Regions from separate parts of the Homo sapiens genome. Here region 2 is linked to region 1. Evidence: fine-mapped expression QTL. A gene starts in region 1. The other region holds a variant in brackets. All regions are shown on one strand. Distances are from middle to middle.

What was found.
Region 2: its variant is fine-mapped to the expression of HDAC8 in whole blood (TOPMed, PIP above 0.99). The same link has a PIP of 0.9 or more in cerebellum and thyroid.

Annotation. Positions count from the first base shown.
Region 1 is chrX:72,566,101-72,578,500 of GRCh38, forward strand. HDAC8 (histone deacetylase 8) reads right to left here and starts at 6,743. Exons shown (of 11, transcript NM_018486.3): 1 at 6,551-6,743; 2 at 5,957-6,009; 3 at 2,654-2,784; 4 at 1,789-1,930. The coding sequence starts at 6,661. RefSeq lists an enhancer at 6,706-6,835.
Region 2 is chrX:72,322,064-72,334,463 of GRCh38, forward strand. HDAC8 (histone deacetylase 8) reads right to left here. Exons shown (of 11, transcript NM_018486.3): 11 at 7,453-8,013. The coding sequence ends at 7,991. Among named protein-coding and RNA genes, the nearest start is that of CITED1, 22 kb to the left of the region's middle. The variant G/C (reference allele first, on the strand shown) is at 7,599.

The sequences.
Region 1 (12,400 bases):
TGCACCACTGCACTCCAGCCTTGGTGACAGAGAGAGACTCTGTCTCGAAAAAAACAAAACAAGAAAGAAAGAAAGAGGCCAGGTGTGGTGGCACATACCTGTAATGCCAGCACCTTGGGAGGCTGAGGATGGAGGATCCCTTGAGCCCAGGAGTTCAAGATCAGCCTGGGCAACATAGGGAGACATTGTCTTTATTAAAAAACAAAAAACAAAAAACAAACAAACAAACAAACAAAGCAAGAAAAAAGCAAGCAGGCAAGCAAGCAAAAGCTAACAAAAGGCAGCTTGTCTCTGTTTTTAAAACCATGTAAGACTCATTACTAAAACATTGGTTTCCTTTGCTGTGTTGCCCAACTAGTAAATTCTAGCAGTAAACTTTTTCAAGGACTTCCTTGGCCACAAAATCTGTCAATTTGATGGAAAAAATTCTGTTATTATCTTAACCTGCATATGCTGAAGTTGTGCTGTGTTTTATTCTGAAAAACAAAGTGTTGTTTTCTCTTGACCTAAGAGCACCTAAGGTCACGGTTGATTGCATGAACAATTGATTCCTGAGTGAGGCATTGGCAGTTACTACCACAGTGGCTTCATTTCTCTCAGACAGAGGATCGATAAATTCAGAGTTTAAAAAATCCTTCTTCTTCAATGTGGATTAAGTACTACAGAAATATCAAACAAAGTCCCAAATGCTGAAGGAGGGCCCAGCAATCCTTCTCAGACAGACTACTGCAGTTTGACATGTTAACATAAAACTCTAGAAGGTGGCCAGGCGCGGTGGCTCACCCCTGTAATCCCAGCACTTTGGGAGGCCAAGGCAGGCAGATCACCTGAGGTCAGGAGTTTAAGACCAGCCTGGCCAACGTGGTGAAACCCTGTCTCTACAAAAATACAAAAATTAGCTGGGCATGATGGCGGGTGCCTGTAATTCCAGCTACTCAGGAGGCTGAGGCAGGAGAATCACTTGAACTGGGAAGGAGGAGGTTGCAGTAAGCTGAGATCGCGCAACTGCACTCTAGCCTGAACGACAGGGCGAGACTCTGTCTCAAAAACAAACAAACAAATAAACAAACAAACACTCCAAAGGACTTCTCCTCTAACTCCAAGAAGCACCTAGGAAGAGCCTTTTCACAAGCCCTTTGTCTTTGAGAGACATCTACCTCTGGGTTGCTACTTTCATTAGAGGAGCATGAGCCCTCTTCTTGATTCTTCAGCCTTTTGTTTTAAACCTATTAGCGTCAATTTTCCACCTTTTTAAAAATCTGTTTGCCACTTCTTTTAAGAACTAGCTCTAAAATTCACTTCTGCCAAGACTTCCATGATTAATTTCTTTCTACTGATAAGTCTCTTCAGCTCATACATATATTCCATTGGTACCATAACTAATGTTGTTCTCTATTCTAATTTTGTTAATGTTTCTAGACTGTAAGTCCCTCGAAGACAGGGGAATTTCTAGAAAGCCGAAAAGGAATTTAGAGACTGTCTAGTTGTATCCTTTGTTCATTTTATTGATGAAGAAACTGAGGCCTAGGGAGGGTAATCAGTCCAAGTCAGTTAGCCAAGTTAGAAAAACTAGGTGTAGAGCCCAGGTGTCCTGACTTTGAGCAGTGTGCTTTCCACTATATTAGGTAATCTTTTTTCTATTTCACTTGGATTTCTTCAGAATGCCTTGTAAAGTGCCACATACACACACGTCTCTCTGTAAATGTCAATACAATAAGCATAAGAGTTTACATAACTGAGAAACTGACTCAAGGAAAGAGTCAGAAAACAGAAAGGTCATTTTCTTACTTCTTTGCATGATGCCACCCTCCAGACCAGTTAATTGCTACTTTGCACATTCCGTCAATCAGGCATTGGGCAGCTGTGATCGTAGCCCCTCCTATAGCTGCTGCATAGTCAAATATCCCTTCAGTGGCTGGGCAGTCATAACCTTAGGGCAAAAATCAGAAGAGCTGGTTAAAAGGTGAACTGGAAAAAGAGGAGGAATAGGTTGAGGTGTGACAACAACCTAACCTACTAAAAAGCCACTGTGCTAATATCAGCTCCAACTGAGACAGAAACAACTCCAATGTTGGGGATATAATATTTTAAAAGGTTAGAGCTAGAAAGGATAAACCCTCCTGATGAACTAGTCACAGGCTACAGATAGAGAAACCAAGCCTGAGAGGTGATGTGTCTTGTCAGTGGTCACACAGAGCCAGGCTTGGGACCCAGCTCTGTTGACCCCCCAGTTCAATGTTCCTCTGCTAAACCATGCTGTTTTTCTAGACTATCCTGCAGGTCACTTACAGTTTTAAAAAATGCAGCTGTTTAATGAGGGGTGAGGTACAAAAACTTAGCCAGAACATAAATCTGTACTCCAGTTAAAATATAAGGTCACAGGACAGCTAAATCAGCATATACACAGCCAGACCAGATCTGAGCACTGCCAGTAGGGCATAAGCAACTGAAAGGTTTTCTTTCATCTAACCCTTCATGTGGTTTTGCTCAACTCATATGGTTTGCTTGTTTAGTGAGTTATATGTGGCTAAACCAAAAGATTAAGATTGACAGTTAACACATGATTTCTTAACGAAAAATATTAAAAAAATCATACAAGTTATAAAAAAAATTAGTCTGTCCATCTCCCATCACTGCCTGGTAATGACTTTACCTAGCCCATATTCTATGGAGTCCGGATGATCATCATCGCCCTCTTGGCTGACCTTCTGGAGATGCTGCAGATAAGCATCAGTGTGGAAGGTGGCCATCTCCTCCATGGAGGCCACTTTAGGCTTAACTATCCTAATAATAACAGAGAGAACAAAGAGAGGTCAGTGAGTCAGACCCAGCGTATGCCAGAAGCTAGAAACAGAAGCCAGCAGTCTGAGAAGAAAATACGTCTCAACTTCTGGTTCCAATAGGCTGGAGTAATAAACATATTCTGTTCTTCCACTGCACTGTGCGGTCTTCACTGCCTCACATCTACAGTAGTGACTCTATTAATAAGGGGCAAGAAGATAGATTTTCCCTTGAGTTTATAGGTAAGTAAACAAAAGTAATTATATTCAAGTTAAACAAATAATCAGGTATCAGACAGACTTTACCCTGTGAGTTACAACTTTCAGGACAAACTAGTAGGCAGGGATATTTTCATTTGAACCAGTTGCGAATTGGGCTATCTAATCCTTTCAGCTATATCTTTATTTTAATAGGCAGCTATGTTATCATGCATTTTGAATTTGGAGTCAGATTTGGAGTCAGAGAATTGGGTTCCTGTCCTAATTCTGTACTTACTAGCTCTATAACCTCAGATAAGTCAACTGTTCTGTAGTTCAGTTTTCTTATTTGTAAAATGGGGAACTTTATGGGACTTATGTGAAGATAAAAGGATAACACATACAAAAATGCTTGGTGGATAACTATCATTCTATTAACAGATAAAAAATGGGCAACCCAAAATGTAATGTTTCTAGACTTGGACCCTCCTATCTGCCTCTGAGAGCGAGGCGAGAAGGGGCAAAATGGTTGGAACCGGACTTCACTCAGAACCTCTCAACCTACTCCTCACGAAAAATGACAAATAGAAGCGAGTGAGGGAATAAAGGGAGCTAACCCAATAAGAGGCCTTACCACATCTAACCTCTAGCTGCCTATTCCCCATTTCCTCTTCTTGACCCCACAGCTGCCACTACTGTTCTCTAGCCCTTGCCACTTAAAGGGTGGTCCATAGACCAGGAGCATCAGCATTCCCTGGGTGCTTGTTAGAAATGCAGAACTTCAGACTTGCCTCAGACCTGAGTCAGAATTTGTATTTTAACATGATGATTTTTAAACAAGATGACACATTTTAAGGTGATTCATATACACATTCAAGTTGAAGGAGCCCTGACCTGGGCCACAGGGAGGCAGCAGTGGTTTTAAATGTCTGCTGAATGGGAACACAGCCATGAGTTTACGATGAATGAATACGACTATACAGGCTACTACTATCACCAAGGTAGCTGGAAGAAATCCTGTGGTTTGGCCTCAAAAGTGAAATACATAGCCAAGACCCAAGAATTCTTGCTTCTTCTTAAAGAAGACAAATCTATACCACCAGAGGTGAAAAATCTACCCATTAAAATAAAAATTTTGTAATATCTCGGACCGTATTTCCCAGTCCTAAAAGCTCCCTCTTCTAGTACCCTTCCATTTATTTTGGTAAATGTTAAAAAACACTTACTGAAAACCTCCCTATTTAACAGTAAGCAAACTGGACAGTTTTGCTTTGCTTTGATATCTTGTTTGTCATAAAATAATTTTTTGAAATGTTAAATAACTTTAATGGAAGGCATATAGTTACTATGTTAACCAAACCATATGGGTTAAAAAATGGCTTAAAATGGGTGTGGTGACACGTGCCTGTAGTCCCAGCTACTCGGGAGGCTGAGGCAGGAGAATCGCTTGAACCTGGGAGGCGGAGGTTGCAATGAGCCGAGATCGCGCCACTGCACTCCAGCCTGCGCGACAAAGCAAGACTCCATCAAAAAAAAAAAAAAAAGGCTTAAAAATTCCCTTTAAAAGGTACAAAATGATTTTGTTAATAATAAGGATAAAATCTGAAAGCCTATTATTACACTACCTTCTGGGAGATAAATGAAGCATAGCACACTAGTTGGTATGAGCACTCACCTATTTGGCCAGAAATTGTCATAAGTAATCCTATATGTGGCAGGGTTATATTTGCTCTTATAACGACATCAAATACAGAAATGGCAATAAACAGCAAGTTCATGTTTTTGGAAGAAACAGTTAGCTCTCTCTTGAGTTCTGGCGCAGTCTTGGCAGTTTTCTTTGGTCTTTTTTGTTTGTTTGTTTTTTGAGACGGAGTCTCACTCTGTCACCCAGGCTGGGGTGCAGTGGCGCAATCTCGGCTCACTGCAAGCTCCGCCTCTCGGGTTCACACCATTCTCCTGCCTCAGCCTCCCGAGTAGCTGGGACTACAGGCGCCTGCCACCACGCCCGGCTAATTTTTTGTATTTTTAGTAGAGACGGGGTTTCACCGTGTTAGCCAGGATGGTCTTGATCTCCTGAGCTCATGATCCGCCTGCCTCAGCCTCCCAAAGTACTAGGATTACAGGCGTGAGCCACCACGCCCGGCCTTCTTTGGTCTTGATCTGTCTCCAGCCTCACCCATTAAAGTTTGGTGCTGGTGGTGGGTTGTCTAAAAGTCTTAGGTTGAACTCACACCCTCAAATCTGGCTTAGAATGAAACGAAATCAAAAGAAAAATGGAACACCTCCTAGCTGAACACCTTTTTGTATGAGACAGGTTTTAATACCCAAATGTACTCAAAATCTCCACAATGCACTGCACCTACCCCTGGGATACTTAACCAAGCAATCGAGCTGTATTTCTAATGAACCTTAACTGCTTCCTGCACTTTCCACTCCCCTGTCCCAAGTTTTCTTTTCTTTTTCTTTCTTTCTTTCTTTTTTTTTTTTTTTTTTTTTTTTTTTTTTGAGACGGAGTTTCACTCTTGTTGCCCAGGCTGCAGTGCAATGGTGCAATCTCGGCTCACTGCAACCTTCACCTCCGGGGTTCAAGCGATTCTCCTGCCTCAGCCTCCCGAGTAGCTGGGATTACAGGCGCCCGCTACCACGTCCGGCTAATTTTTTTGTATTTTTAGTAGAGACGGGGTTTTGCCATGTTGGGCAGGCTGGTCTCAAATTACTGACCTCAGGCGATCCACCCACCTAGGCCTCCCAAAGTGCTGGGATTACAGGCGTGAGCCATGCTCTCGGCCCCCCAAGTTTTCTTAATTCTTCAAGAGCTTTCTTGGGATTACAGGCAGATTACAAACACTGTGAATACTTTCACAGAAAGCTAAAATAATTTTTTCAAAAGACCATTCTTTTCCTTGCCCCACTGTGAAGCAGGATATTAAGGCTACGAACACCTAGCTTCAGGGCTATGTTCAAGAAAGACAACTTACCTCATCTGCTTATGCAGTGCATATGCTTCAATCAAAGAATGCACCATACTGGCCTAAAAACATCAGCGTAAAAAAAAAAAAAGAAAAGCAGAAATAGTCTCTTTAAAGTTTAATTCAGCAAAATCCCCGTCAATCTCACCATCCTGAACAAAGGAACGGATTAATTTTGTTTCAACTGGCTTCCCTTCTGTTAACAGTTACAATACACTTTAGACAATACAGATACAAAGTATCAAAATCACTAAGGTGAAAGCTACCGGGCCTTAGGCAGGTGATGGAACACCTTCCCCCTGCAGCTTGTTTTCCCACGACTTCAGCGGTCCCCTATGAGTGGAAACTGCGTCCTCTCCCCTCCTCCGTACCCCCTCCCCCACTCCTACCTGTCCATTGGACGTCCCGAAGAGACATGCTGCGCTCTCAGAAACGATATGAGAACACTTCCTTCTGATACAGCTTTAGGTATCTGATACAGCTACTCGAAATTTCTGAAGATTTCCCCCAGCCCAGTGTCCTCTCCGCTTCCTAACGCTCTTTCGTCCACCGCCCCCACCCCCACCCCCAAAGCCCATGGTCTTTCATCCCGACTTCCCTTACCCGTTTGGGGATCTTGGCCAGGGAGTCACACATACTGACATACTCGGGACTATAGATATAAACCGGGACCAGCGACTGCCCACTGTCCGCCGGTTCCTCCGGCTCCTCCATCTTCCGCTTAAAACCGTTCCGCAGCCACCTTCCAGATCTGGCTTTTTTCGGACTCGGCCAGGGTTCCAGTTCCTGCTCCTCTGATCGGCCGCAGCGGTGCTCCCTGGTCAACATTCCCTCCTATTCTTGAGATCGCCGGAGACACTATCACCGCTCCCCATCCTATTGAAGGAATGGATGGGACTTCCCAGACCAGACTCCCCTCATTTAGTGACCACAGTTCAAGGAAAAGGGTTTGGCAGATGTAAAAGTCCAAATAGCTGTCAATTAGGATCGATTGTTTTTATGGCACAAATAAGTAGGGTCAAAACTAACCATCCTTGTTGCCCTACGGGGCCATTTGAGATGAAGTCAGACCAGTTTCACAGCATGCTGGGAGATGTAGTTTCCGGAGGTTTGAGCAACGGAAGAGCCGGGGCTAAACACTAAAATAACCGCGATTTTTAGTTTCAGCGCTAAGACCAAAAAAAAAAAAAAAAAAAAGTAGCCTCAACTCTTTATGAATTGTTTCAATCTGCAAACACATCCATTTCATCCATTTAACCATATAAACACAGATAGAACGTGGCCACCTAGAGCCCCCACCATCCAGCTACATCAGCTGCCTATCCTAAGGATAGGCTTTTTTTTTTTTTTTTTTTTTTTGGTGGGGGCGCTATTTAATGGCACAAATGGTTTGAAAAGTTTACACAGTAAATTCTGTGATGCAATTTTATAGTTCATTTCTTTTCATCATTAACTATCCATGTCCACATGAGAGTTAACAATCTCAATAATTTACTCTGGCAAATCTGATAGTACTTTCCCAAGAGACTGGCTGGTGCAGTGGAAATTGCTTGGTAGATTCCGATCAAGCAATGATGTCAAATGTAACTCCTTGAACATTCATGTGGTAGGAAGGTTGCAAGCAGTGGTGTTTGGAAACTGCAGCTCTTCTCCTCCTACCTCCTCTTGTTTCTGCAGCTAAACATAGATTAGGGAAATATTTTAGGTTTGGTGTGAGGGTCCAGTTTAAGACTATCTGAGGCGGTTTTAGAATTACCATCAGCATTTGGAGGTTCCTGGAGGCCCCTATGATCTGATACAAGCTGGCCAGTGCTCAGGATCTTAATTCTCATGGCAACCTAAACTGACTGACTAACACCACTGGGACAACCTAATATCCTTACTATATTTAAAGTCTGGCTTGCTTTTTAGACTTTAAACATTTATTGAAGATTGTGACATGCACATTGGCCATATTATCTCATTTCATCCTTGCAACAGTCCTATAAAGGAGGTTGCAATACACCCATTTTACAGATGCAGTTTAGAGAAACAACATTCAAAATCACATACTTAACAAGCAGATAAGTAGGAATTCAAAATTAGGTCAGCCTGACACTGAAGCCTTTGAACATTCCCTTTATTATATAAACTTGATTCGTCCAGGATGACTTTGTGTTATGATATAACTTTGTTCACCCTCCATTTTGTATCCCTTCAATACTTATTCTGAAAATCTTGGGGGTGTTTTGGTGATGTGCTCTGTAACTAGAATGTAAGATCTTATGTTTCTTTAATTTATGTCTTCCCATAGTAACTAGTTAAAAGCTCTGCAGTCATTCATTCATCAAACATTTATCTGATATTAAGTGTACAGTACAGCTGAGGATTCAAAGGTAAATTATGATGTGATCTCTGCTCTCAAGGAATTTGCATTCTTTTTTTTTTTTTTTTTTTTTTTGAGACAGAGGAGTCTTGCTCTGTCGCCCAGGCTGGAGTGCCGTGGCGCGATCTCCTCTCGCTGCAAGCTCCGCCTCCCGGGTTCATGCCATTCTCCTGCCTCAGCCTGTCCAAGTAGCTGGGACTACAGGCGCCCGCCACCACGCCCAGCTAATTTTTTTATTTTTAGTAGAGACGGGGTTTCACCGTGGTCTCTATCTCCTGACCTCGTGATCCGCCCGCCTCGGCCTCCCAAAGTGCTGGGATTACAAGTGTGAGCCACCGCGCCCAGCCAGAATTTGCATTCTTATACAGAAGATGGGGCAAGTACACAAGAAACCAAAGGCAATGCAGAGTCAATGAATGTAGGATGCTTAGCCTACTTAATAAATAAGCATTAAGTACTAAATAACTGGCATTTAATAAATGGTAACTAGAATTCATCTTTGATGGCATTTGAGAGGGTCTTAGGAGGTGGGCAAGATTTTGCTTGGTGAAGATGGGAGCCAGGAGAGGGCATGCTGACTAGAATGAACAGCATAAACAGTAACACAAAAGGGAAAATTTCTAGTCGAGTTTAGCTAAAAGGGCCAGATCATGAAGAACATTGAATACCAGGCTAAAGAGAATAGACTACATTCTGTGGGAAATGGGAAAACATATTTAGACAGAAATAGTAAGGAAAAAAGATTTCTATAGCAGCAGTGTGTAGGAAAGATTAGTCATTAAAAGGCTAGGGGCAGTTAGAGTGCCACAATGGTCCAAATAAGAAGTGATAATGATTTTAAACTAGGGTGGGGGCAATGGGAACAAAGGAGAAATAATGTACAGGGTAGGTTCAACAGGACTTTTTTATTACTTGGATATTGGTGAGAGGGAGGAAGATGGAAAAGGGTTGCTGAAAACTCTTAAATGTAAACTCTGGGTAAAGAAAAGACTAGAGGTAGCAATATAAGAAAGAGGGCAATCGGGAGGAAGAACTCATACAGTAGGGCAGAATAGACATAGATTCTGATTTTAAAAGTGTTGAAAAGTGTTTCAGAAATTAGTGGGTTAAACAATTGCAGTGATACACACACACACACTTTTCCATATAAAGAGGAGAAAACTGAAGTCATAAGAGTGGCTGAGCTAGGCAAGGGATGTGGCTTTCTCCACTGGGATGCCTAACAGTCATATCCAACAACATTTTCAAAACCAAGCTCCCAATTTCCCCACCCAAGTTCTTTCCACTCCTTTTCTATCTTTCATAGCTCAGTAAAGATATCAACATCTATCCAGTTGCCTAAGTCAGAAACCTGGGAGTTATTTGTGTTTCTTCCTTTCCTTCACCTGCAGATCCAGTCCATCAGAAATTTCCATTGGTTCTATGTCCAAGACATGCCTTAAATACATTCACTTCTCTCACTCTGTACTGCCACCACTCTAGTCTGGATACTATTATCTCTCACTTAGACTTTCTGCAGTATCAACCTGGGCGTTGCTTCCATTCTTGCTGCCTTACAACCCATTATCTTTGCAGCCACCAGAGTGAACCTCCAAAAAAAAGTAAATCAGATCATGTCACAAAACCTGCCCCAGACTCTGGTGAAGACCTCTGAGCTAGGAAGAAGAGTGTCATTTTTGGAAATGCCTGTGTGTAAGAGTTTAGAGGAGAAAAAGATGTCAGAAAGAAGACAAGGAATGGTCAAAGACCCCTTTTTGTCATTAGAAATTCACTGGTGCCCTATGGAACAAAACAAAACAGGAGGTGGGGAGGAAGCCAGATTGTGGGGGTTTAAGAAGTGAAGCCAACACAGTTAAGTGTAGCTTCCTCTTTGAAAAAATGTGATTGTGAAAGGAAGGAGTTAGTCTAACAGCTTGAGGGGACGTCGGAGCCCAGAAATTTTTTTAAGATAAGAGAAAACTGCACATGTTTATAGACAGGAGAAGCTACAGGAGTTGACTGAAAGGTGAGATCATGATGACGGGCAACATAAGGAGAAATGAGACTTGTTCTGGGCCTTCAGGGATAGGCAGCGGAAAGAGGGCAGGAGATAGACTGGCCAACTGATACCCTAAATTCTGGACTCTTCTTGGATGACATGAAAAGGTATTGTTTCATGTGTCCTTTCTGATCTAGTAACAAATAGCTGAATGGCTCTAAACTGGAAACACTATCCAAGTACCCCATGCAATGTGGCAAGATGATTCAGCTATGGAGAAAGATAAATTGTTGCACAATGCTCTGGAATTGGCAACCTATTCCTGCAGCTAATCTCAAAGGGCGGCTAGACGCTTGCTCATGGTTAAGAAAGAGCACACATCATGCCACAGGTCCCTCACCTCAATTTTCCACATTCGTAACACCCATATGGTTCTTAAACTGGGAAGAAAACCCTTCTCAATGCACTTTATTTGCAGTTGGAGGACTTGAGGTCACAGGAAGTAGGTTGAATCTTGGCTTCAAAGCTTGCTAGGGTGGTGACCCAGGGCAAGTTACTTGACTCACTTTCCTCAATCATTATTGCTAAAAGTAACATTCGAACCGGTAAGTTCAGGTTGGGCTGTGCCATATTTTTTTGGTGCTTTCCCCTGCTTTTCCCCAGAAGGGGAGGCAAACACATTACAAGGGCACCACCCTTCAGTGAATGAGCAGAGTCTTCTCTGCTCATTTCACTATCTGTCCAGTGACACTTCAACTGTCTTCAACTGACCCTTGTCACACCACCCCCTTAATGTCATTTTCCTTGGAGAGTGTCATTGTTGAGAATGTGATCGCTAGCGTCAGACTGCATGGGTTCAACTTCCAGCTCTATCACTTATTAGATGATTGATTTGGGGCAATTTACTTAAACCCTCAGTGCCTCAGGTAGCTTACTTGTAAGATGGCAGTATCTATCTTACATGGCAATTGTGAAGATAAAATGGCTCACGCTAAGTGCCTATATAACAATGGCATTTGGTATGTGCTCAAATATTGGTTATTTAAGAGCCATTATGCCAAATATTTCTATATTTGGTGGGGAAGGGAGTTTCCCCCTACTGTCATCCTTACCCCCATACCACTACTGCACAAGTACTACTAGTGGTTTGAGAATAAGTTCTTGGTTTTTTGGCTTAGCCTTAAAAGAAATCACACATCTGCTAAATATAGGGTGACCATATCTTTCAAACTGAGACATTTTTTGAGAGTGACACAGTGCTATTGATAATTATGCCAGTAAAACAGGCATAAATGGGGGCTGCCCTGGACAAACCAACACCTGAGGTTACTCAAGTTAAAAAGGAAATGAATGTCTACCAAATATAAGAATAAAAATTGATGGCTGTATTTTTTTAAAATTAAATAAATAAAAAGGAAATGAAGACTACATGTGGAAAATAATCTCCACTGCATTAGTGCAGACACTAGGTACTTGGTAAGTAGAAAAAGGAATGGCAGAGGTTTTGCCAGCTGTGGTGAAGAACAACTTTTGCCCCACCAGTTGTGTAAGATTCCCAGAATGTAGTAAAATTTCATTAACCAGGATGGAACTGTAGAGACAATGTTCATCCTTGCTGGATAAATCCTGTTATAGAAAAGGCTAATGAATAGTATAAACAAACAAGATTCTGCCAAATATTTTTAATATTTAGAAAAACAAGTTGTTTTAAAATACCCTTCATTAGGGAAGAAGCACCATTTGTACACAATTGAAAGGCTGAGTAAAAATGTTTTACTCATTCATCAGAAAATGTTCCCTACAGGCCAGGCGCGGTGGCTCACGAGTGTAATCCCAGCACTTTGGGAGGCTGAGGCAGGCGGATCACCTGAGATCAGGAGTTTGAGACCAGACTGGCCAACATGGTGAAACCCCGTCTCTACTAGAAATACAAAAAAAATTAGCTGGGTGTGGTGGCGCATGCCTGTAATCCCAGCTACTCGGGAGGCTGAGACAGGAGAATCGCTTGAATCCGGGAGGCAGCGGTTGCAGTGAGCCGAGATCACCCCACTGCACTCCAGCCTGGGCGATAGAGCAAGACTCCGTCTTAAAAAAAAAAAAAAAGAAAAGA
Region 2 (12,400 bases), 240 kb before region 1:
GATTCTCCTGACTCAGCCTCCTGAGTAGCTGGGATTACAGGCGTGCACTACCACGCCTGGCTAATTTTTTGTATTTTTAGTAGAGATGGGGGGTCTCACCAGCTTGGACAGGCTGGTCTTGAACTCCTGACCTCTGGTGATCTGCCTACCTCAGCCACCAAAAGTGCTGGGATTACAGGCGTGAGCCACCACACCTGGAAGGCTAATTTACCTATTTCTCCTTTTGTTGCTTGTGCTGTTGGTGTCATAGCTAAGAATCCATTACCAAATCCAAGGTCATGATCTACCCCCATGTTTTCTTCTAAGCATTTCATAGTTTATCTCATACATTTAGGTCTTTGATCCATTTTGAACTCATTTTTGTGTATAGTATGAGATAGAGTTTCAACTTCATTCTTTTTTTTTATTTTTCCTAGATGGAGTCTCGCTCTGTCGCCCAGGCTGGAATGCAGTGGCACGATCTTGGCTCACTGCAACCTCCGCCTCCCAGATTCAAGTGATTCTCCTGCCTCAGCCTCCCGAGTAGCTGGGATTACAGGTGCATGCCACCAAGCCCGGGTAACTTCATTCTTTTGCATGTTGAAATCCAGTTGTCTCAGCAAAATTTGTTAAAGAGACTTCTTTTTCCCCATTGAATGGACTTGGCATCTCTGTCCAAAATCAATTGGCCATAGGTGTATTTCTGTACTTTCAATTCTGTTCCATTGTACCTATATGTCTGTACTTATGCCAGTAACACAATGTTTTGGTTACTATAGCTTTGTGGTAAGTTTTGAAATAGGGAATCATGAGTCCTCCAACTTTGTCCTTCTTTTTCGAGATGTTTTTACTACTTGGGGTCTCTGGAAACTCCATATGAATTTCAGGATGGATTTTTCTATGTCTGCAAAAAAGTCTTTGGGATTTTCATAGGAATTGCTTTCAACCTGTAGATCGTTTTGAGTAGTATTGACACCATACAACATGAAGTCTTTCAATCTATGAACACGTTTTTCCATTTATCTGTGCTTTGTTTAATTTCTCTCAACAACATTTTATAGTTTCAGTGTACAAGTTTTTTGCCTCCTTGGCTAAGTTTATTCCTAAATATTTTATTCTTTTGGATGTTATTGTAAATATAACTGTTTTCTTTTTCTTTCTTTTTTTTTTTTTTGAGATGGAGTCTCACTCTGTTGCCCAGGCTGGAGTGCAGTGGTGTGATCTTGGCTCACTGCAACCTCTGCCTCCTGGGTTCAAGTGATTCTCCTGCGTCAGCCTCCCGAGTAGCTGGGACTACAGGTGCGTGCCACCACGCCTGGCTAATTTTTTGTATTTTTAGTAGAGACGGGGTTTCACCTTGTTAGCCAGGATGGTCTCGATCTCCTGACCTCGTGATCTGCCCACCTCAGCCTCCCAAAGTGCTGGGATTATAGGCGTGAGCCACCGCGCCTGGCCAGAACCGTTTTTTAAATTTCCTTTTCGGATTATTCATTGTTGATGTATAGAAACACAATGGATTTTTTTTGGTTAACCTTGTACCCTGCTACTTTGCTGAATTCATTTATTAGCTCTAGTGGTTGTTGTTGTGCAGTGTTTTTATTTGTAAGGAAAATTGAGAAAATTCTGAATGTTGAGCAATAGGGGACAGGTTAAACAAATTTTGAAGCATCCATATAATAGGATCATTTCAAGCATCAGGTGTGCCTTCCTTTTTGGTATGTCTGGCATATGTTATAATGGAAGATGAATAAAGTAGCTGTTTCTAGATTGATATGGAAAGCTGTCCACGGCGTATAATTAAGTGAAAGAAAAATCAGGTTGCAGAACAGTTTCATTTCATTTACATAAAAGTCAAATGGTCATATATGCATAATGCCAGCTCCATTGAGACAGAGATCGTTGTCTGTTTGTACACAGATGTAACCCTAGTGCCTGGCACGCTGCATGGCACATAGTAGGTGCTCAATAATATTTATGGAGCAAATGAAAAAAAGTCTGGAAAGAAAAACACTAAATTGCCAATAGTGGTTATCACTGAAGTATAGGGATATGAGGGAACCATTATCTGTATTATCTGAAAGTTTTTACCTGAAGCATATATTGAGGGGAAATATTTCATTACACACACACACACACACACACACACACACACACAAACACACACACACATTCTCTTACCAAGTAAGTGGTTAGGAGAAAGGCATAGTGGGCCAAAGGAGGAAGGTGCCAGGACTCCATCTGAGGTAAACAGAGGCTTCTCACAGGCAGTCACTTTGGAGCTGGGCCTTACCAGGCTCCTTATTATTTATTTATTTTTTTGTCCACACAGTAGCCAGAGCGAGCTTTTCAGAATGCAAATCTGATCAGACCACTCCTTGGCTTAAAACTCTGATGGCGTCCTTACCTGCAGGCTCAAGCCCAGCCCCCCAACCTGGCACAGGAAGCCCTTTGTGATCTGGTCCCTGCTATCTTTACTTGCAGCAACTCACCAATATAGATTTTAATGTTTTATTATGAAAATTGAAAAACCACAAAACCAGAGAGACTATATAATCAACTCCCATATTTTCATTCAATCCACTTTAACAGTGATCAACATTTTAAAATTTTGTTTTACCCACGTCCCCCTCCCTCCCCACCCTCCATATACATTTTCCTCCTCTGGAGCATCCAGATACAGTTCATCTATAAATACTTCTCTTTATCTCTCTATAAGATGAGGATATAAAATATATGTGTATATAACCACCATGCTGTTATTGTACTTAACAAAATTATCAATAATTTCTTAACATAACCTGTCCAATGTTCCCTCATTGTTTTAATAACATCTTTTTACAGTTGGTTTGCTTGGATACCGTCAAATATCCTGTGTTCCAGCAACACCAAGCTGCTTATTGCTTCCCTAAATTTCCTGTGCCTTCTTGCCTTCATGTATTCCAGTCCCTTTGCCTGGAATGCCTCCTCCCATGCCTGGCCCAAGATTCAGCTTGAGTGTCACCGCCTGCTTGTAGCCTTCATGGTTGCCCCAGTCTAGATTGCTTGTCTCCTCCTCTGTGTTAATAATACCTAGAATAAGGCATTGCTCTGTCTTATTACATAGTTCTACCATTCTCTAAGTATGTATTGAGAGAGAGAGAGAGAGGAGACTGGGCGCGGTGGCTCACACCTGTAATCCCAGCACTTTGGGAGGCTGAGGCGGGCGGATCACGAGGTCAGGAGATCGAGACCATCCTGGCTAACATGGTGAAACCCCGTCTCTACTAAAAATACAAAAAATTAGCCGAGCGTGGTGGCGGGCGCCTGTAGTCCCAGCTACTCGGGAGGCTGAGGCAGGAGAATGGCGTGAACCTGGGGGAGGCGGAGCTTGCAGTGAGCTGAGACTGTGCCACTGCACTCCAGCCTGGGCGACAGAGTGAGACTCCATCTCAAAAAAAAAAAAAAAAAAAAAAAAAAAAGAAAGAAAAAGAGAGAGAGAGGAGGAGAGAGAAATAGATAATGATAAATGATAGATGGTATCTGGGGATTGCCAGGACAAGATGGCTACTTTAGTTAGGGTAGGGTGGTCACAGTATTATTATTATAACTTATTTATTTATTTAATTTATTTTTTTTTGAGATGGAGTCTTGCTCCCGTCGAGCAGGCTGGAGTGCAGTGGCGCGGACCTTGGCTCACTGCGACCTCCACCTCCTGGGTTCAAGCGATTCTCCTTCCTCAGCCTCCTGAGTAGCTCGGATTACAGGCATGCGCCATCACACCCAGCTAATTTTTGTATTTTTAGTAGAGACGGGGTTTCACCATGTTGGCCAGGCTGGTCTTGAACTCCTGACCTCAGGTGATCCACCTGCCTCGGCCTCCCAAAGTGCTGGGATTACAGGCATGAGCCACCGCACCCGGCTGTTTTTTTAAATTTTTTGAGACAGAGTCTCACTCTGTCACCCAGGCTGGAGTGCAGTGACACAATCTTGGCTCACTGCAACCTCCATCTCTTGGGTTCAAGCGATTTTCCTGCCTCAGTTTCCTGAGTAGCTGGGATTACAAGCATGCGCCACCAAGTCTGGCTAATTTTTTTGTATTTTTAGTAAAGACGGGGTTTTGCCATGTTGGCCAGGTTGGTCTCGAAGTCCTGACCTCAGGTGAATGGCCAACCTCTGCCTCCCAAAGTGTTGGGATTACAGGCATGAGCCGCCACACCCAGCCATATTATTATTATTATTTGAGACAGGGTCTTGCTCTGTTGCCCAGGCTGGAGTGCAGTGGTGCAATCATGGCTCACTGCTGCCTCGACCTCCAGGGCTCAAGGCATCCTCCTGCCTCAGCCTCCTGAGTAGTTGGTACTACAGGCATGTGCCACCACGCCTAGCTCATTTTTGTATTTTTAGTAGAGATGGGGTTTTGCCATGTTGGCCAGGCTGGTATGGAACTCCTGGGCTCAAGCAATCCTCCCACCTCGGCTTCTCAAAGTGTTGGGATTACTGATGTGAGCCTCCGGGCCCGGCCCTAGGGTATTTAATTGAGTCAGACAACTGAATGAGGAGAAGGAGCCAGTCTAGGGAAGATTGGGGCATTCCAAGCAGGACTAGCGTGTGCATAGATCATGAGGTGAGGGGCCCCTGTCTTAGACAGCTCTATTTATGTCTGTCTTTACCTCTACGTCTGTAGATCTCATCCTTTTTGTAATCACAAAACTCCTTTGAGTGTTGAGACTCTGATAATAGCTATGGCTCTGTGCCCCAGAAAAATGTACATATGTACAGTCACACAAATTTGCATACTATTTCCCTAATTCCTGAAGCCAGGGAACCCCAGGAAGTTTCCTTACCCACAGCGTGTTCACATTTAGGGCAAGAACAGTGTCTACTACTAATATATAACATGCGCTCTACTACATGCTTTTCTGCATTATCTCTTTGGTCCCTCGCAACCACCCCCATGAGGTAGGTACAGGTAAGTGTCGCCATTTGATAGACAATAAGACTAAGGCTCAGAGAGAGGGAGTTACTTGGCCAAGGTCACACAGCTAGTAAGTGAAGGGAGAGGCTTAAACTCAGGCAGTCTGAGGCTGAAGTGTGTTATGTTGCATGCCAAGGCACTACCGGTCAGCTTTGGGCCCAGCACTGAGCAGGAGGTTTGGGGATCTGCCCCTGGCAAATGCAGAGAAGGAGGAGCTGCAGGAGCTTTCTGTATAGGGGCTTAGAGATGTCAAAACACACTTGTTTACGTGGTTGTTTTCTTTCATTCTTCTGCTTTTCTCTTCCTCCTTCTTTTCCTTCTCCTCTTCCTCTTTTTCCTTTTTTTTTTGTTGAATGACAATATTTGATTTTCTTATAAAGAAGTCTTTCTGCCTTAGAGTCTTTTAAATATATAATTGGAAATATACTACTGCTGTCTCTGTGACAGCTAACATTGAATGCAGCAGAGGCAGATCCACCCTCCCCAAAGGAAAACTGGTGGGAATTTTCCATTGACTTAAAAACAAATGTTATGTATTAACTTTTTTGGGACCAGGTAATACATTCACATGGTTCAAAAATCAAAAGGTACAAAAAGGAACTGAGTGCAGGTCGCCCTCACTCTGCCACTTGCCATCTGGTTCCCTTGCCCAGAGGCAACTGAGGTGTCCCAGTTCCTTGTGTATTTTCCCAAAGGTGTTTTATGCACATATATGCATATCCAATATCGATATTCCTTTTTAAGTGGTTATTTTCTTACCCCTTGAGTTGGAGACATAGTCTACACTTCTTTCTTGGTCTCTTTGGCCCTTGTGAGTGCCCTGGAGACAGAGGGGGCTGGTGGGTTTCCTATAAGCACTGGGTTTTCCTCAGAGGTGAGCCTTCCCTGGACCATTTCCAAGGCAGGCCCTCCTGTCCAGAATACACGCTTTTCAAAGTGCTTCCATCTTTGGTAATTCATCAACCACTCACAATAGCCCATGAGGTGCAAGAATTATTCACCCCATTTTATGGGTATGGAAACAGACCCAGAAAGGTCAAGCAACTTGCTGAAAAGCACACAAACGAATGAATGCTACTGTGTGGTGAGGGCCCAGAAGCAGCATGTGGCTTGGTCCAGCTTGGGCTTTGGAAGCAGTAAGAAAGTTGTTTACTTCAAAGTCACAGTTTAAAAATATTCTAGTGGCACTAGTGTGGGACAGTGGAAAAAGTAAGGGAATTTGCAGTTCCAGCCGGGTTTTTCTTCCTGGCTCTGCCACTTAAAAAGGGGCATGTTACTTCATCATTCTTAGCCTCAATTTTCTAATCTATAGAGTGGGGATGATAATACCCACTAGCAGGGTGGATAGTGACGTACAAGTGAAAATGATCTGTAAAATGGGGCATATGCCAATGCTTGCTTTACCATTGTTGTTATAGTTATTGTGGCTGGTCCCTTGCAGACACAAGGGGTGGGTGGTGGCGGGGTCGGCAGCAATTTCCTAAAGGTAAGACAGGCAGGCTTATGGTGGGGACAAATTTGCCCCACCCTCAAGCCAACTGATCTAAAAAGCATCCCCCTCCCCCGCATCCCCCTCCCCGCCATCGCCCCCACTGATCGGTCTTCCAGGCAATTAGAACAGCCCCAGGGCCTGAGCACAAAGTCTTCCTCAGTGGGTGTCTTGAACTGACTTTGATCTGTAACTACCCCCTAACTCCCCGCGGATCAATTGTTTCTTTTTTTTTTTTGGGGTTTATGTATTTATTTTTTTCTATTATTAAAGTAAAATGTGCCCACTACAGAAAATTTGGAAAATACTGAAAAGTAGAAATGTGCTCCCACAGCTCTGAGCTCATGTTGATAACAGAGCTGGAAACATGTTGGGATCTGCTTCTTTTTCTCCTCCCTTGCCTTGTCTGGGAATTCCTAGACAGCCAGGATGGATGGGGCTGTGTGCTTGTCTGCCGTCCCGGTCCCAGTAGTTAGTTGAAGGAGCTTTGTAAATATTTGGTAAATAAAATTACAATATCATGACATTTAGTTGTCTCTTCCTCATCTCTCCCATTATCTCCCATCCCCATTTTTCCATGTTGCCAACTCCCCAGAGGTTGCAGTAACACCACACATTACAACTTCCTCCCCTTTTCATTATGTGCCAATTGTCTACTGGGAAGCATCCTTTCTATCCATGGAAGTGCTCCTCTTGGATCTGACATGCCAACACACCTTTTCCATCCCTAAATCACTCCCTGGACAGGGACAGCTCCTCCCCAGGGTGCCAATAAGCCCCTCTCCATGACTGCAGTGCCAGTATTCCTACCCCACCATGGACAGCCCCAGTGCAACACAGAGCTTGGCCTTCTGTCCCAAGAACTTGGGCTAGGGACACACTAGTTCCCCAGTGAGGTCAGACTCTCAAGCCGGGCCAGAGTAGAGATTGGAAGGAACAGGGTTATTCTTGACACTTCAGCGAGAAGAAAAGTTCAGAACTGTGTGTGCTGTCAGTGGCGCTTTACAATGAAGACAACGGGACAAAGAGGTAGGTTTTCAAAGATTTTATTAAAAAAACCAAAGATATATAACACTAAAACAACACCAGCGGACTTCTCCCCACCTCCCAGTCTGCTGATCAGTACCCTCTCTCCCAGGGCTCCACCTGGATGGTCCTGAGGCCCAAACCCTGCCT[G/C]TCAGCTGCCTCCTGCCCTACAAACTGGTGACTGCTCTCATCCAGCTTCTGATCTGTTTCATTTAAGATGATTAAAATACTCCCCTCCCCAATTCGCTTAAAAATAATTTTCAAAGATTAAAAATTTCATTTGTGTGTGTGTGTTTTTTTAAATAAGAACTTTAAATGTGGGATATCTCCTTCTTCCCCTAGGTCCAGTTGAGGACTCTGGGGTGCCTGCCTCTTCACCCCAGGAAGCCAGCTGCCACTTGATGCCCCTTGGAAATTTTCAGGAAGTAATTTCTTTCAAATTTTCCCTGCAGTCACAAATTCCACAAACTGCTTGCATAAACACGCTGTCTTCATTATAGGCACCACTCCTCAGCTCTGGAAACCTGATCTCTTTCTGTCAACTAGACCACATGCTTCAGATTCCCTGCAAACAGGGGAGAAAACAAAATTCAAAGTCAGGTAATGTATGTGAATTATACCCCAATAGAGCTATTTTTTAAAAAGCACTTATATTTTGGGGCTTATTCTCTGCTGCTCTTGGGAACTCTGTGACCTCGCCATAAGGAACAAGACCAGAATAGCTTGCTGGATGATGAGAAACAAATGGCCCAGAGATCCCTGTCACCCAGGCAACCACCAGCCAATTACTGGACATGTGATCGAGGCCTTTGACAGCCAGCTGACTGCAGATGCTGGGTGTATCCAGCCAGAACCAGAAGAGCCACCCAGCTGAACTCAGCTCAATTGCCAATCTATAGAGTCATGAGCTAAACAAATGGTTGTTTTAAGTCTCTCTCTCTCTCTCGTAACACTTTTCAGAGTTCATTCTTTACTAACTGCATCAAATCTCATGCTCCCCACCCCCAACTTTTCTTCCTTCCCTTAGCAAGGCACAACCCTCCTAGCATTTTCTCTTGTGAGTACCTGTGAAACACGGATTGGGGGCTTTCCTCTGATCTCAGGCCTAAGAGTCTTTGAGGGAAAAGTGATCATTTGAAATCCTACCGGACTGGGCTCTAGGAATGAAAAGTTGCTCACTTTGTCCCTCCGTAGTCTTTGCCTTGCCACACTTCCCCAAGTAGAAACACTGGGCTCCAAACCCTACTGGCCACTTCTCTGAAACAGAAACAATGCTCCCTGAGGGCAGGGCCTGGCTGTCTTACTTTTGGTTGATTTCCAAAGTCTTGCACAGTGCCTCACTCATAGTAGGTGCTCAGTAAATGGCTGAATGAATGGACGAATGAAAGGAAGGAAGGAAAGAAGAAACAAGTCAGAAACAAACTACTTGCCTATCTTTTTTTTTTTTTTTTTTTTTTTGAGATGGAGTTTTGCTCTTGTTGCCCAGGCTGTCGTACAATGGCGCGGTCTCGGCTCACTGCAATCTCCCGGGTTCAAGCAATTCTCCTGCCTCAGCCTCCCGAGTAACTATGACTACAGGTGTGTGCCACCATGCCCAGCTAATTTTTGTATTTTTAGTAGAGATGGGGTTTCACCATGCTGGCCAGGATGGTCTCGATCTCTTGATCTCGTGATCCACCCGACTCGGCCTCCCAAAGTGCTGGGATTACAGGTATGCCCGGCCTTGCCTATCTACTTTTATTTTAAATTTTATTCTGCAGTAAAATTGACATTTGTGCATGTGCAGATCTGATTTTAAACATATGTATAGATTCATGACAGAGAGGAGTTCCATAACCCCTCAAATCTCCTTGTGCTATCCTTTTGCAATCACATCTTCCTTTCTCCCCCACACCTAGCAAGCACTGATCTGTTCTCCATCACTGTAGTGTTGTCTTTTTGAGAATGCCATATAAATGCAATCAAACAGTCTGTAACCTTTTAAGATAGGCTATTTTATTTTTTTACTCAGCATAATGCCTTTGAGGTTCATGCAGATTTGTGCATGTATCAATAGAAGTTCATTCCTTTTTTGTACTGAGCTCTTACTTTTAAAATAATTATAGAATAACAGGAAGCTGCAAAAAAAAAATAGTGCAGAGAGGTTCTACACACCCTTCCCCAGGTTTCCCCACATGTTAACATCTTACATAATTACTGTTCAATATCCAAGTCAGGAAATTGACATTGGTACAATTCACAGATCTTATTAATATGTCACTAGTTTTACAAGCACTCATTTGTGTGTGTATAAGTGTATAATTCTAGGCCATTTAATCGCAAGTGTAGATTCATGTAACCTCAACCACAATCAAGATGCGAAACTATTTTATCACCACAAAGATTTCCCTCCTCTACCTCCTTTACAGTCATTCCCATCCCTCCTCCTTCACCATCCCTAAGTCCCAACAACCATTCATCTGTTATCCTTCTCTAAAATTTGGTCATTTTGAGAATGTTATAGAAATGGAACCATACAGTATATAAACTTTTGAGATAGATAGGCTTTTTTCACTCAGCATACTGCTCTTAAGATCCATCCAAGTTGTGGTGTGTATCAAGTTTGTTGCTTCTTTTTGCTGAGTAGTACTCCACAGTATGGATGTAGCACAATCTGTTTAACTACTTATCTGCTGAAGGACACCTGAGTCATTTCCAGTTTTTGGCTATAGAATCAAGCCACTATGAACATTCACATACAGGTTTTTGTGTGAACATAGTTTTCATTTTTCTGGGACAAATGCTCAACAGAATAATTGCTGGGAGGTATGGTAGTAGCATGTTTAGCTTTATAAGAAATTGCCAAACTGTTTTCCAGACTGGTGGTACCATTTTACTTTCCCTCCAGCAATGTTTGAGTCATCTGGTTTCTCAGCATTCTTGCTGGCATCTGGTGTTGGTTTTTATTTTGGCCATTCTGATAGATGTATAGTGATATCACATTGTGATCTCAATTTGCATTTTCCCAATGGCTAATGATGTTGAACATCTTTTCATGTGCTCATTTGCTGACTGTATATCCTTTTCATGTCTTGTCTTTTGCCTACTTCCTAATTGTTTTTTTTTTTTTCTGTTGAGTTTGGAAAGTTCTTTATATATATTTTTTATTTTTATTTTTTGAGACACAGTCTCACTCTGTCACCCAGGCTGGAGTGCAGTGGTGCGATCTCGGCTCACTGCAAACTCCGCCTCCTGGGTTCAAGCGATTCTCCTACCTCAGCCTCCCTAGTAGCTGGGATTACAGGCATGTGCCACCATGCTCGACTAATTTTTGTATTTTTAGTAGAGAGGGGATCTCACCATGTTGGCCAAGCTGGTCTCAAACTCCTGACCTCAAATAATCCACCCGCCTCAGCCTCCCAAAGTGCTGGGATTACAGGTGTGAGCCACTGCACCCAGCCCTTTATATATTTTAGATACAAATCTGTTGTGGGATATATGATTTGCAAATATCTTATCTCAGTATGTAACTTATCTTTTCATTCCCTTAACAGGGTCTTTTGTAAAGCAAAAGTTGATTTTGATGAGCTCCAATTCCTTATCAATTTTTTTTCTTTTTTTGGATCATGCTTTTGGTATTTCAACCCCCTAACCTCAAAAAAATCTCTGGATAATCTTTGATCCTTAATTTCTTAGTTCACGCCTTCTCCACATCTTATGAGTTGTGAAGCCTAACCTCAAGATGTCTCTCCAATCTATCCCCTTCTTTCTGTTCCACTGTCTCTGCTTTAGTCACATCTCTTGTTACTCAGGTCACTGCGACAACCTCTTATCTGGTCCTCCTGCTTCTAGAGCTATTCCCTGCACAATTGCTAGCTGTGATCACATTCCTTCTCTGCTCAAAAAGACTTCAGCAGGCTGGGCGTGGTGGCTCATGCCTGTAATCCCAGCGCTCTGGGAGGCTGAGGTGGATGCATCACCTGAGGTCAGGAGTTTGAGACCAGCCTGACCAACATGGTGAAACCTCGTCTCTACTAAAAATACAAAAAAATTAGCCAGGTGTGGTGGTGGGCGCCTGTAACCCCAGCTACTGGGGAGGCTGAGGCAGGAGAATCGCTTGAACCTGGGAGGTGGAGGTTGTAGTGAGCCGAGATGGTGCCATTGCACTCCAGCCTGGGTGACAGAGCGAGACACCATTTCAAAAAAAAAAAAAAAAAAAAGACTTTAGCAGTTCCCGACCTACCACCTATGAATGAAGTCCAACTCCTTAGCGTAAATGGGCCCCATCCATGCTTTCCTGTTTCCACACCTTCGCTTGTGTTGTTGCCTCAGCTGAGGACAACCTACAGGGGACACTGGTGTGAAGTGAGAGTCCTTCCATCTGTAAGTATAGCCAGAGCTAGGGGAATGACTGAATGCAAGGATGAACAAAATTCCATGTCAAAGCATTCCAACAAGACATGTTCGCAGGGAGGAAAGGTGGGTGCTGTACTCCTCTGCTGCTCTGCCTCACTCTCCAGTTAAATTTGGAGGCAATTAAGAAAAACAACAGAAATAATTTTCACCAAGAAGTTGATGATGAGCAATGTTGAATTGGGGTAACAATAAAAATGCAAGCTTAAATAATGCCCATTGTTTTCCCCTCACATCTAGCTTTTCCAGCAGTGGGTGGCAGCCTGAGAAAATTCTAAAGGCTAGCACAGGCTGGGGCCTAGGGAGACAAGAAGTTCAGACCACAGCGGGCAGACTCAACTGCCTAGAGAGGCCAAGAATATACTGTTTGTAAAGCAGGCTGGGGGCAAGACACAAGGGGCCCTCTTGATCCTTTTTTCATTTTCTTACTTTGAATCATGACATAAGTGTAAGAAATATTTCCCTTTTTTCTTAACTCTGCCACAGAAGAAAACAAAACCAAGACAGTGTAAATGGAAACTCACACTTGGCCTAGAGTAAGAGATACAAAAGGGACTGGT